Regions from separate parts of the Homo sapiens genome. Here region 2 is linked to region 1. Evidence: fine-mapped expression QTL. A gene starts in region 1. The other region holds a variant in brackets. All regions are shown on one strand. Distances are from middle to middle.

Region 1 (5,369 bases):
GGAGATTCGGAAAGAACTCCTGAAGTTATCTGCAAAGCGGAGCTACCTATCTTCCTTCTCACCCAGGAAGCTGAACAAAGCCTAAGGAGGCTTCCTTAATCATGACTCCCTCAGACAAGACTGGTAGTTTCTGCTCTGTTTCATAAACCTGAAACTATACCTGCACATGCGCCTGATGAAAATGTCAAACAAAATTGAAATCTGTAAAACAACTTTAAAGATTCTACTTGCATTTTGAAAATCCCCAATGCAAACAGTGCGCTTACCTTCTTCTGCCAACTCCTTAGTGATGATGAGTTTCCCGTGGCGGAGGTAGTTGAGGATAGGACCAAAGTAGGTGGGGTCCCTGTCAATCAGATAGGCTCCTGTCTCATCCTGCCAACCAAACACAAGGGTATCATTGTGGACCTTTGAGGAGTATTTTAAACAAAGGCAGGGCAGGATTTCACCATCTTTGTCAGCGCCCCAAGACAACAATTCATTCCATCAGCTAAAAAAGACTTTAGTGATGGCAAATTTTGTTACACATTTGTCACAAACTATTGGTAAGAAAGCTATAGCTTTATGTATCTTGTACATTAAGATCATCTTAGGTAGGGTGTTACAGACAGTCATACTCATTTAGGCGTTTACTTACTGGCTGGAATTTGCAATCTTTGCCTGGACAATAATTACAGTGACAAACATTCTTCTGTAGCGTGTTTGTTATTAAGAAAGGGAGAAAATGCCGTAGCTGTGTAACTGAAATCTTTGCTTGAGATGGACATTCTGACTTTTCCACTGCCTCTGAACTGCATTCCTAATTCCAAGAAAACCTCTGTGTAGTTGGCAATGCTCCTGAGCTCAAGGCCAACATCAGTGGGAGTTTGCACTGCCAGCTGTAATCTCACACACCCCAGCTCTGTGCCCAGAGGAAGCTCGGTACTGCCAGGACTTGGCTCTGAGCAGCTTTAATCCTACTCATCTTTACAGTAAAAGGAACAAGAAGAAACTGGCTTCTATTACCACAAGGAGGATATAGAGTAGATAAAAATAATTCCTTTATAAGCAAGGGTTTTGAAATCTCTTTAAAGTTAGGGCAGGATAGGTTTCCATCAATCTGAGATTTCTTAGAGAAGAGGAATAAACGAAAACAACAAATGTTTACGCAACTCCAGCTCTGTTTTGAGGTCACCAGCTGAGTGCTATATGGGATATAAGATGGTGTGAGTTATGGTCAGTGCCTTTAAGTTGAGAACTTAAAGGTGAATACGTAAAGTTAAAAAGAAATTGACACAGTTCAAACTGGAAATGGTTTAAGTGTCTTGTCACCTCTCAACCCTTTGGTTAGCAGCCATGCATCCTGCCCAAAATTTTCCCGGGAAAATTTTCATTTTCCTTCTGTCTTAGCCTAGATTTGCAGCGGCAAACAGTAACCTCTTTCCAAAAAACGCATTTGATCTAAATATGGACCTAAACCAGTGACTGTTAACAGATAAAAGTTCTGCGACCAGGACTATAGAAAAGCAGTGTGATATCACAAGGAGCGCTTCCTGCAGCTGTGGAAGCCCAACTTGGCAGAGGGGTCCGAGAGGGAGTCTGAGAAAGCTACAAGGATGCCTGAGCTAACCCTGACCCAGTTCTGGATGCATCTGGCACCGGCAGTGGGGGGACTGAAGAGGAGCCAGGGAAAACTCATGCAGATCTCAGTGGGATGTCAGGGGCAGAGAATATGGAGAAGGGGTGTGGAGTGCGTTCTCGTGGGTGCAGGTGGGCGCAGTGTGGGAAGGAGTCTCAGAGAACGAAGGGCGGGGTCGGGGAGAAAGCCAGAGTATGCCTCAGCATGGAAGAAGGGGAGTGGGAGGTCCCTCTGAGGCCCCTGCGAGTAGTGTGGGAGGGAGGGGGAGGATGGGGTCCCGGCCTGAGGGGGCTGCCTGTGAGGAGCGTGTCTCAGGACTCTGGGGACCGATCTACGAGAAACCAGGGGGTTCGAAGGCCCGGGGGCGCGCCCGAGGGCGGGGCACACCTTGTCTGAGTCCAGCTCCGGGTCCTCCTGGCAGCAGAGGCGGCAGAGAAATGACTTGGGCTCCCGGCCTAAGGTCTGTCTGGTGGTCACGAAGTAGGTGCCTCCCACGTTCAGCCTGACCCAGCGGGCCGCGCCGCCGCCCCCTGCCCGCTCGGGTGGTCCGGGACCCGGCTCCAGCGGCTGCGCGACGGCGGCAGCCGGGCGGCCGTGCCCGCGGGGCGTGGGGCCAGCCGGGCGTGGGCTGGGGGGCCCGCGGACTGGGCCACCCCCGTCGCCCACCCCACTCCCGCCGCCCCCTCCCAGCCCCGCCATCGCCGGGTCCAGCTGCAGTTCCGCCATCTTGGACCGCCGCCGCCACCGCTGCTGCCCGCGCGCAGCCGGGCCGGCCCATTTCTCGGCAGGGAGAGCCGGGCCGGCCCATCGGCGGGGGTGGGGCAGAGGGGAGAGGGACGGGAGCGCCCCCAACCAGCGCCCGGGGACCCGCGCGGGGGAGGCGCTGTGCCCGCCCCCGGGAAGATACTTCCGGAACCAGCCCTCATCTCTATTGGCTGATCTGCGAAGCAAGGCCCACCCCCTTGGCTTTGGGGTTGGCTGAGGAAAGATCTTCCCGTGACCCACTTCCGTTACTTGCTGCGGAGGACCGTGGGCAGCCAGGGTCGGTGAAGGTGAGTGGGGCTTGGGGCATTGGATCCGATCCCTGGAGGGCTCCTCTGCTCTGCCCTCTCCAAACCTCACGCCGACCCTTGTCACGCCCCCGTCAAGGACGCTGGGCCCTCGGCTTGCCCCGCTGGCAGAGTGTCCCTTGTGTAGCTGCCGCTCCTCGCCCCGCGATCCCTTCCTCAGCCCTCCTTGGCGCGCGGGGTCAGGGGGGCCCGGCTGTGTCCCAGGCGCCGCTGATGTAGGCGCTGCCACAAGCCGTGTCTCGTGCAGTCCGCTCCCAGCGCGGCAGACTTCAATAGTTTGGTGGGGGGACTGGGGAAACATTACGCAGACAGTGTTAACCTGCCGAGGGACGCTCAGCTGGCTGCGGGGCTGCGCCCTTCCCCTTCGGCAGCTTCCAGGATTCGAACGTATAGAGCGTTCAGGGCTCCTCGGGTGCAGAGTTCGGTTACTCATTCAAGAAAGATTCATTGAGCACCTCCTATGCGCATGATCTGTTCTAGGCGCTGGGGATTAAGCAATAGATTTTTAAGAATTAAAAAAAATTTCGCCGGGCGCGGTGGCTCACGCCTGTAATCCCAGAATTTTAGGAGGCCAAGGCGGGCGAATCGCGAGGTCAGGAGTTCGAGACCAGCCTGGCCAACGTAGTGAAACCCCGCCTCTACTAAAAATACAAAAAATTAGCTGGGCGTGGTGGAAGGCCCCTATAATCCCAGCTGCTCGGGAGGCTGAGGCAGGAGAATCGCTTGAACCCGGGAGGCGGAGGTTGCAGTGAGCCGAGACCACGCCACTACACTCCAGCCCAGGCGACAGTGCGAGACTCCGTCTCACTCACACACACACACAAAGTTATTTGTGACTTCCATTTTCCACTGATGTTGCGGGAAATCAGGGACCCCAAACAGAGAGACCGGCTGAAACCATGGCAGAAGAACGTGGATTGTGAAGATTTTATGGACATTTATTAGTTCCCCAAATTAATACTTTTGTAATTTCTTATGCCTGTCTTTACTGCAATCTCTAAACATAAATTGTAGAGATTTCATGGACACTTATCACTTCCCCAGTCAATACTCTTCTGATTTCCTATGCCTGTCTTGTCTTTAATCTCTTAATCCTGTCAGTTGAGGATGTATATCGTTCCAGGACCCTGTAATAATTGTGTTAACTACAAAAATTGTACAGCATGTGTGTTTGAGCAATATGAAATGTGGGCACCCTGAAAAAAGAACAGGATAACAGCAATTGTTCAGGGAACAAGAGAGAACCTTAAACTCTGACCGCCGGTGAGCCGGGCAGAACAGAGCCATATTTCTCTTCCTTCAAAAGCAAATGGGAGAAATATCGCTGAATTCTTTTTCTCAGCATGGGATATCCCTGAGAAAGAGAATGCGCACCTAGGGGTAGGTCTCTGAACTGGCCCCCCTGGGGCGTACCTGTCTCTTATGGTTGAGACTGCAGGGGTGAAATAAACTCCAGTCTCCCATAGCGATCCCAGGCTTATTAGGAAAAGGAAATTCCCACCTAATAAATTTTGGTCAGACCGGTTGATCTGAAAACCCTGTCTCCTGATAAGATGTTATCAATGACAATGGTGCCCAAAACTTCATTAGCAATTTTAATTTCGCTCTGGTCCTGTGGTCTTGTGATCTCACCCTGCCTCCACTTGCCTTGTGATATTCTATTACCCTGTTAAGTACTTGATGTCTGTCACCCACACCTATTCGTATACTCCCTCCCCTTTTGAAACTCCCTAATAAAAACTTGCTGGTTTTTGTGGCTTGTGGGGCATCACGGATCCTACCAACGTGTGATGTCTCCCCCGGACGCCCAGCTTTAAAATTTCTCTCTTTTGTACTCTGTCAAGCCAGTCGACGCTTAGGAAAATAGAAAAGAACCTATGTGACTATCGGGGCAAGTTCCCCGATACACTGATGTTTGGGAAAGTCTGTAAGGGTGCTTGGTTCCCTGGTAACTTTAAAATCACATGCCAATTGCCTTAACACCTCCCCTCCACAACAGGAAACAGGCTGTCCTGAGAAAGAAAGGAAGGACAGGACAGGTGTTTGACAACTTTCTTGAAGATCCTGAGAAAGACTGCTTCCGCCTCCCTTGCATTCCACTCCAAGCTTATAGAGATTTTTGACTTTGCAGTCTTTTAATATCTGACCCTGATCTTACTTAAAGAGGACTATTTTCCTATATTCTGACTTTTTTTTTAAGTGGCTGTAGTCGTTTTCTGTATTTTTCTCACATTTTCACATGTGTTGAATACCTCTTAAAATGCAGGCCGGGCGCGGTGGCTCATGCCTGTAATTCCAGCACTTTGCAAGGCTGAGGTGGGTGGATCACCTGAGGTCTGGAGTTTCAGCCCATCCTGGCCAACGTGGAGAAACCCTGTCTCTACTAAAAATACAAAAATTAGGGCCGGGCGCGGTGGCTCACGCCTATAATCCCAGCACTTTGGGAGGCCGAGGCGGGTGGATCATGAGGTCAGGAGATCGAGACCATCCTGGCTAACAAGGTGAAACCCCGTCTCTACTAAAAATACAAAAAATTAGCCGGGCGCGGTGGCGGGCGCCTGTAGTCCCAGCTACTCGGGAGGCTGAGGCAGGAGAATGGCGTGAACCCGGGAAGCGGAGTTTGCAGTGAGCCGAGATTGCGCCACTGCAGTCCGCAGTCCGGCCTGGGCGACAGAGCGAGA
Region 2 (5,369 bases), 24 kb after region 1:
GTGGCCTTGCTGACTTCAGGAATGAAGCCACAGACCCTCACGGTGAGTGTTACAGCTCATAAAGGTAGTGCAGACCCAGAGGAAGCAGCAGCAAAATTTATTGTGAAGAGCAAAAGAACAAAGCTTCCACAGCATGAAACAGCACCCCAGCGGATTGCCACTGCGGCTTGGGTGGCCAGCTTTTATTCCCTTACTTGGCCCCACCCACATCCTGCTGATTGGTCCATTTTACAGAGAGGTGATTGGTCCGTTTTTACACAGTGCTGATTGGTGCGTTTACAAACCTTTAGCTAGACAGAGTGCTGATTGATGTGTTTACAATCCTTAGGTAGACAGAAAAGTTACCCAAGTCCCCACCCGACCCAGAAGCCCAGTCGGCTTCACCTCTCCTAAGGAGATGGTAATTGTGCTGTAGAGGTCTATGGCAGCACTGCCTGCTGAAGTGGGGGACAATTGTTGCACGTTTGTAAGGGCATGGCTGTGCCTTGGTTTGTTGAGGGGCTCGAGGCAGGCCTCTCTTCCCGTTTCCTGAAAGAGGTTGTCCATCCTTGTTAAATTTAGAATGACACTGACTTGCCCAGTGTTTGCTTTTCTTACACTGGAGACATATACCGGGACTTTTCTGTTGACTGATGGTAGTAATGTTTGCCTTTTGATTTCCTTTTCTACATTCCTTTCTTGGGTGTCCAAATTGACCACAATTAAAGCAAGGGCCTGAGAAATGGGGTATATTCTTTCCTACTCTTAATCCAGCCATAGCCTGAGCTAAAAGAGTTGCCTTATGTAAGTTACCTCCAATGCCATCGCAATCCTTAATATATTTAGCTAAATGAGCCGTCCCTCTCAGGGGTCTAATAGCAGTTTGACACTGCACTAGCATTTTCGTATGCAGGAAGCTGTATTACAACATCCTGAGCCGTTTTATTAGTAATGGCTTTATACACAGCCTCTTGGAGCTGAGCAATAAAATCAATATATGGTTCTTTAGGTCCTTGACGGATAGAACTGACAGAAGGATGTTTTTCGCCTGTAACATTTATCCTTTCCCATGCCCATAAGCACACAAAGCGCAGCTGAACAATGGCAGCATCCTCCATTACTGCTTGATTTCTCTAATCAACCCCAGTTAGGGCCAACTCCCATTAACTGTTCAAAGGAAACAGGCACAGGTGGCTGTGCTTGTATGTTTTCCCCTGCCTGAGTTTGAGCTTCATCAGCCCACCAGGTTTTAAACTGCAAATACTGAGATAGGGTGAGAACAGATTTTGTCAAAGTATCCCAGCCACATGGTATTAATCTATTATCAAGAGCCATATTTTTTAATAGAGTTTGCACAAAAGGAGAGTTCGGTCCGTATTGACTAATGGCTTGCTTAAATTCCTTTAGTAACTTAAAAGGAAAAGTGGCCAATTAGCTGTATTCTGTCTTCTCTGCTGGATGATAGTAACAGGAAATTGCCATGCTTCAAGGTCTCCCTCGGCTCTAGCTTTATGAATAGAATTTTCTATAGCATCACCAATTGCTCCAGGTTTTAATATTGCAACTATAGGAGTAGTAAGTTTTTCAGCTAATTCATCTTCTCACCCATTAAGAGGAGAGAGAGGAGGTGGCCATTCACTTAATTTAGCAGGGGGCGCCGACGGGCTAGTAAAACATACTTTTTTTAGTTTTCCTTTCTTTAATCTCCTCCGGTAGCTGTTCCTCACACTCAGAATCTGAAGTTAGTTTTTTACACTCATCCTCCTCTTCCTCATCTCAATCTGCCTCATCATCTGTTTGAAATGGCTCAAGAGCTGCCTTTATTAGCGCCCACATGACCAAATAGAAACTGGAATATCTGCTCCCTCTTTATACGCCTTTTAAAAATCTCTGCCGATTCTCTCCCATTCATCCAACTCCATAGTCGCTTGTTCCGGAAGCCATGGGCAAAACTGCTTTACTGTACTAAAGAGTGATAACAAATTCTGAGTACTAACTTTCACTCCCCCTCTTCATAATAAATGCCAACAAATTCTGAGTACTTTCACTCCCCCTCTTCGTAATAAATGCCTTAAGAAATTTAAATAAGGCCGGGCGCGGTGGCTCACACCTGTAATCCCAGCACTTTGGGAGGCCGAGGCGGGCGGATCACGAGGTCAGGAGATCGAGACCGTCCTGGCTAACACGGTGAAACCTCGTCTCTACTAAAAAAAAAAAATACAAAAAATTAGCCGGGCGCGGTGGCGGGTGCCTGTAGTCCCAGCTACTCGGGAGGCTGAGGCAGGAGAATGGCCTGAACCCAGGAGGCAGAGCTTGCAGTGAGCCGAGATCGCGCCGCTGCACTCCAGCCTGGGCGACAGAGCAAGACTCCTCTCAAAAAAAAAAAAATAATAAAATAAATTTAAATAAGCAAAATGTCTTTCACTTTATCCCATTGTTACCCTGGTTCTTCCGAGCGCTCAGCTTTCCTGCCGAGCTTCTTTTAGACGCCTTTGGGTGTCCTTTGACGATGTGTTCTCCGCTTTCACACGCTCTAGCGTTCCTTCACCAGGGTCTTTGTCACCCCACGTTGGGCAGCCAGGAATGTTGAGGTGATCAGACCCAACACCAGGTCATGGGGGCAACAAAGTCC[G/A]GCGGAGTCAAAGGAATTAGAAAAAGACAGTTTGAGAGAGAAAGTAGCACCAGGAAGCCATCGCCAGTGTTGAGGCTGTGAAGACCCCCAGCTCTGGGAGCCCACGGTATTTATTGGTGCTCAAAGAAACAGGTGGTGAGGATGTGGGGGTTGAAAAGAAAGTGTATCAAGTGAAGGAGAAACATACGGCTGCTTGAGAGAATGGGAGTGCTAGAAGCAAGGAGCCAGCAAGTCTAGCAGACATGCAAGCCCTGCCTCAGCTTCTCTCCCAACACTCAGCTTTTCTCCCAACGCTCAGCTTTTCTCCCAACAGCTTTCTGTTACCCACATCTCTTAAAACCTTTGCCGGGTGCAGTGGCTCACGCCTGTGATACCAGCACTTTGGGAGGCCGAAGTGGGCGGATCACCTGAGGTCAGGAGTTCAAGAGCAGCCCAGCCAACATGGTGAAACCCCATCTCTACAAAAATACAAAAATTAGCTGTGCATGGTGGCATGCACCTGTAACCCCAGCTACTGGGGAAGCTGAGGCAGGAGAATCGCTTTAACCTGGGCGAAGGAGGTTGCAGTGAGCCAAGATCACGCTATTGCACTCCAGCCTGGATGGCAGAGTGAGACTCCATCTCAAAAATAAAAGAACCTAAACTCCTTAACTTGAATTCAAGGCTCTCCACATCAAGCCGGTCTCTCTCTGGGTTCACCTCCCGCTGCAATGGTGGATCACCCTGCACGAATCCACCATTCAGTGCCTTTGCCTTCTTTGTCACCCCCTCCACCTCAGCCTCTTTTGTCTCTTGTGTTCATTGTTCCCTTCAAATGGCATGTCCGCCTCCCGTCTACTGATGAAAGTCCCATGCCTTTTCCATAGCCCGGCTCAAATGCCCACTTACCTGTCTCAGCCCTCCTACCTGGTTGTGTGTGTAGTTTCTTTTTGTTTTGTTTTTGAGACGGAGTCTGGCTCTGTTGCCCAGGCTGGAGTGCAGTGGTGTGATTTTGGCTTACTGCAACGTCACCCTCCTGGGTTCAAGCAATTCTCCTGCCTCGGCCCGAGTAGCTGGGATTACAGGTGCCCACCACCTATTTTAGTAGAGATAGGGTTTCACCACGTTGGCCAGGCTGGTCACCTCAGCCTCCCAAAGTGCTGGGATTACAGGTGTGAGCCACCACGCCCGGTGGTTTTTTTTTTTTTTTGAGACACGGTCTTGCTCTGTCACTCAGGCTGCAGTGGTGCAATTATGGTTCACTGCAACCTTGAACTCCTGGGGGGCTCAAGTGATCCTCCTGCCTCAGCCTCCCAAGTTGCTGGGACTATGGACATGTATCACCACACCTGGCTAATTTTTGTAGTTCTTGTAGAGATGAGATCTTGCTATGTTGCTCAGGCTGGTTTTGACCTCCTGACCTCGTGTGATCCTCCTGCCTTGGCTTCCAAAGTGTTTGGATTACAGGCGTGAGCCACCACGCCTGGCCTGTGTGTTCTTTCACAGCAGACACCAGAACCCTTTCCTGTTCCCCAGTGCTGTGTCGATAACTGTGCGGCTGATTTAACTGAGAGAAAAGGTAGGAATTGTTTTCTGAAGCATTCTGAATGAGAAGGGAAGCCTAATGAGTTCTGATTTTTATTGTGACTAATACATGAGGTGCATTATTAAGGTTTGACAACATGGTGACTGCCTATAAAGACGTCTGCAACCAGTGCCTGCAGCCTTCATTCCAAATGAACATTCTTGTGATGGCTCCAATGTTATAGACAAGCATTAACAGCCAAAAAGAAAAACAGAAATCTCCTTATGGTGTGAAAGTCCTCTCAGCTGCAGCTGCCCGGACGCCCAGAAGAGCCCTCCCAGCTGCAGAGGGTGATTTCAGTCCATGTCGACCCTCCTGCTTGTCTTTACAGCAGAATGAATTCTCTTTTGTCTCAGCCTTTCCCGATTCATGTTTTCTATCCTGAAAACAAAAAGACTGCAATTAGCCCCAGATGCCCAATCAGTGCTTTTCAAAGTGGTGAGAGGAGTTGGGAGCTCAACGGGAAGCCGAGCAGTTACACCAGCAGGCACTAGCCCGCAGGCCTCGGTCCCAGGTCAGCATCCTCTCCTCTTCCTAGAGTTTCTCCCAAGGCCGGCCTTGGACTCTCCCCTGCCCCTTCCTTACCTGTGTAGACTCTTGTCCACACAAATCAGTTTATAGCATCTTAGGGCATTTCCTGGTACCTGATTCTATGAAGTTTAACATCTTCTTTTGTTGGCTCCTTCGGTGTCTGGCTGGCCTCAGTGATCATGTCTCGAATTTTCTGCAGGCAATCTGCCAGATTCCGGAACTGATAGCGGCTGCTCTCAGAGGTGAGGATCAACTCTCCTAACCTGTTGATCTTGTTTTTATGCTGCAGAGAACAAATGAAAAACTGGAGTCCTACAGAGTAAAGGTTTAAAAGCCACTGAGGGATTTCTAGGGAAAGAAAGGGATGGTGGTTACCGTGATGGCTATCTTCTGCCGCACGGGCTCCGCGATCCACTCGGCAGTTGCCAAATGGAACCTGACTTCTGCCTTGGAATTCACTGTGGAGGAAAGGGAGAAGGGAGCATGGGTGCCTGAGACTTCCAGGAAGGATCAACCCCTGGGTGACCAGTGACCATTCTGAAATAAAGGGAGGCCAGACACCTAACCATGTACATTGTAGCCTATGTCCAAGTTGGCTATGAACAAGCCCGCAAAGACAGTGAGGCACTTTTGGGCAAAAATAGACTTCCAGTAACTAAGCAC

Direction of the effects. Positions count from the first base shown, and alleles are read on the strand shown. Sizes are in standard deviations (SD) of each study's normalised expression.
For the expression in pancreas of the gene that starts at base 2,626 in region 1, allele G in region 2 goes with a higher level than allele A (small effect, 0.26 SD a copy in GTEx).

Evidence for each region. PIP is the estimated chance that this variant, and not a neighbour inherited with it, causes the effect. A credible set is the group of variants that fine-mapping cannot tell apart.
Region 2: its variant is the best candidate, but not a certain one, in a credible set for the expression of ATP5PD in pancreas (GTEx, PIP 0.79).

The regions. Positions count from the first base shown.
Region 1 is chr17:75,044,226-75,049,594 of GRCh38, reverse strand. ATP5PD (ATP synthase peripheral stalk subunit d) reads left to right here and starts at 2,626. Exons shown (of 6, transcript NM_006356.3): 1 at 2,626-2,670. KCTD2 (potassium channel tetramerization domain containing 2) reads right to left here and starts at 2,370. Exons shown (of 6, transcript NM_015353.3): 1 at 2,006-2,370; 2 at 267-375. The coding sequence starts at 2,344. RefSeq lists enhancers at 2,387-2,681, 2,566-3,151, 3,090-3,159 and a silencer at 2,260-2,689.
Region 2 is chr17:75,020,108-75,025,476 of GRCh38, reverse strand. It overlaps MRPL58 (mitochondrial ribosomal protein L58), which reads right to left. Exons shown (of 6, transcript NM_001545.3): 4 at 5,082-5,164; 5 at 4,820-4,989; 6 at 4,216-4,556. The coding sequence ends at 4,472. Among named protein-coding and RNA genes, the nearest start is that of MRPL58, 10 kb to the right of the region's middle. RefSeq lists a silencer at 129-286 and an enhancer at 4,450-5,369. The variant G/A (reference allele first, on the strand shown) is at 2,612.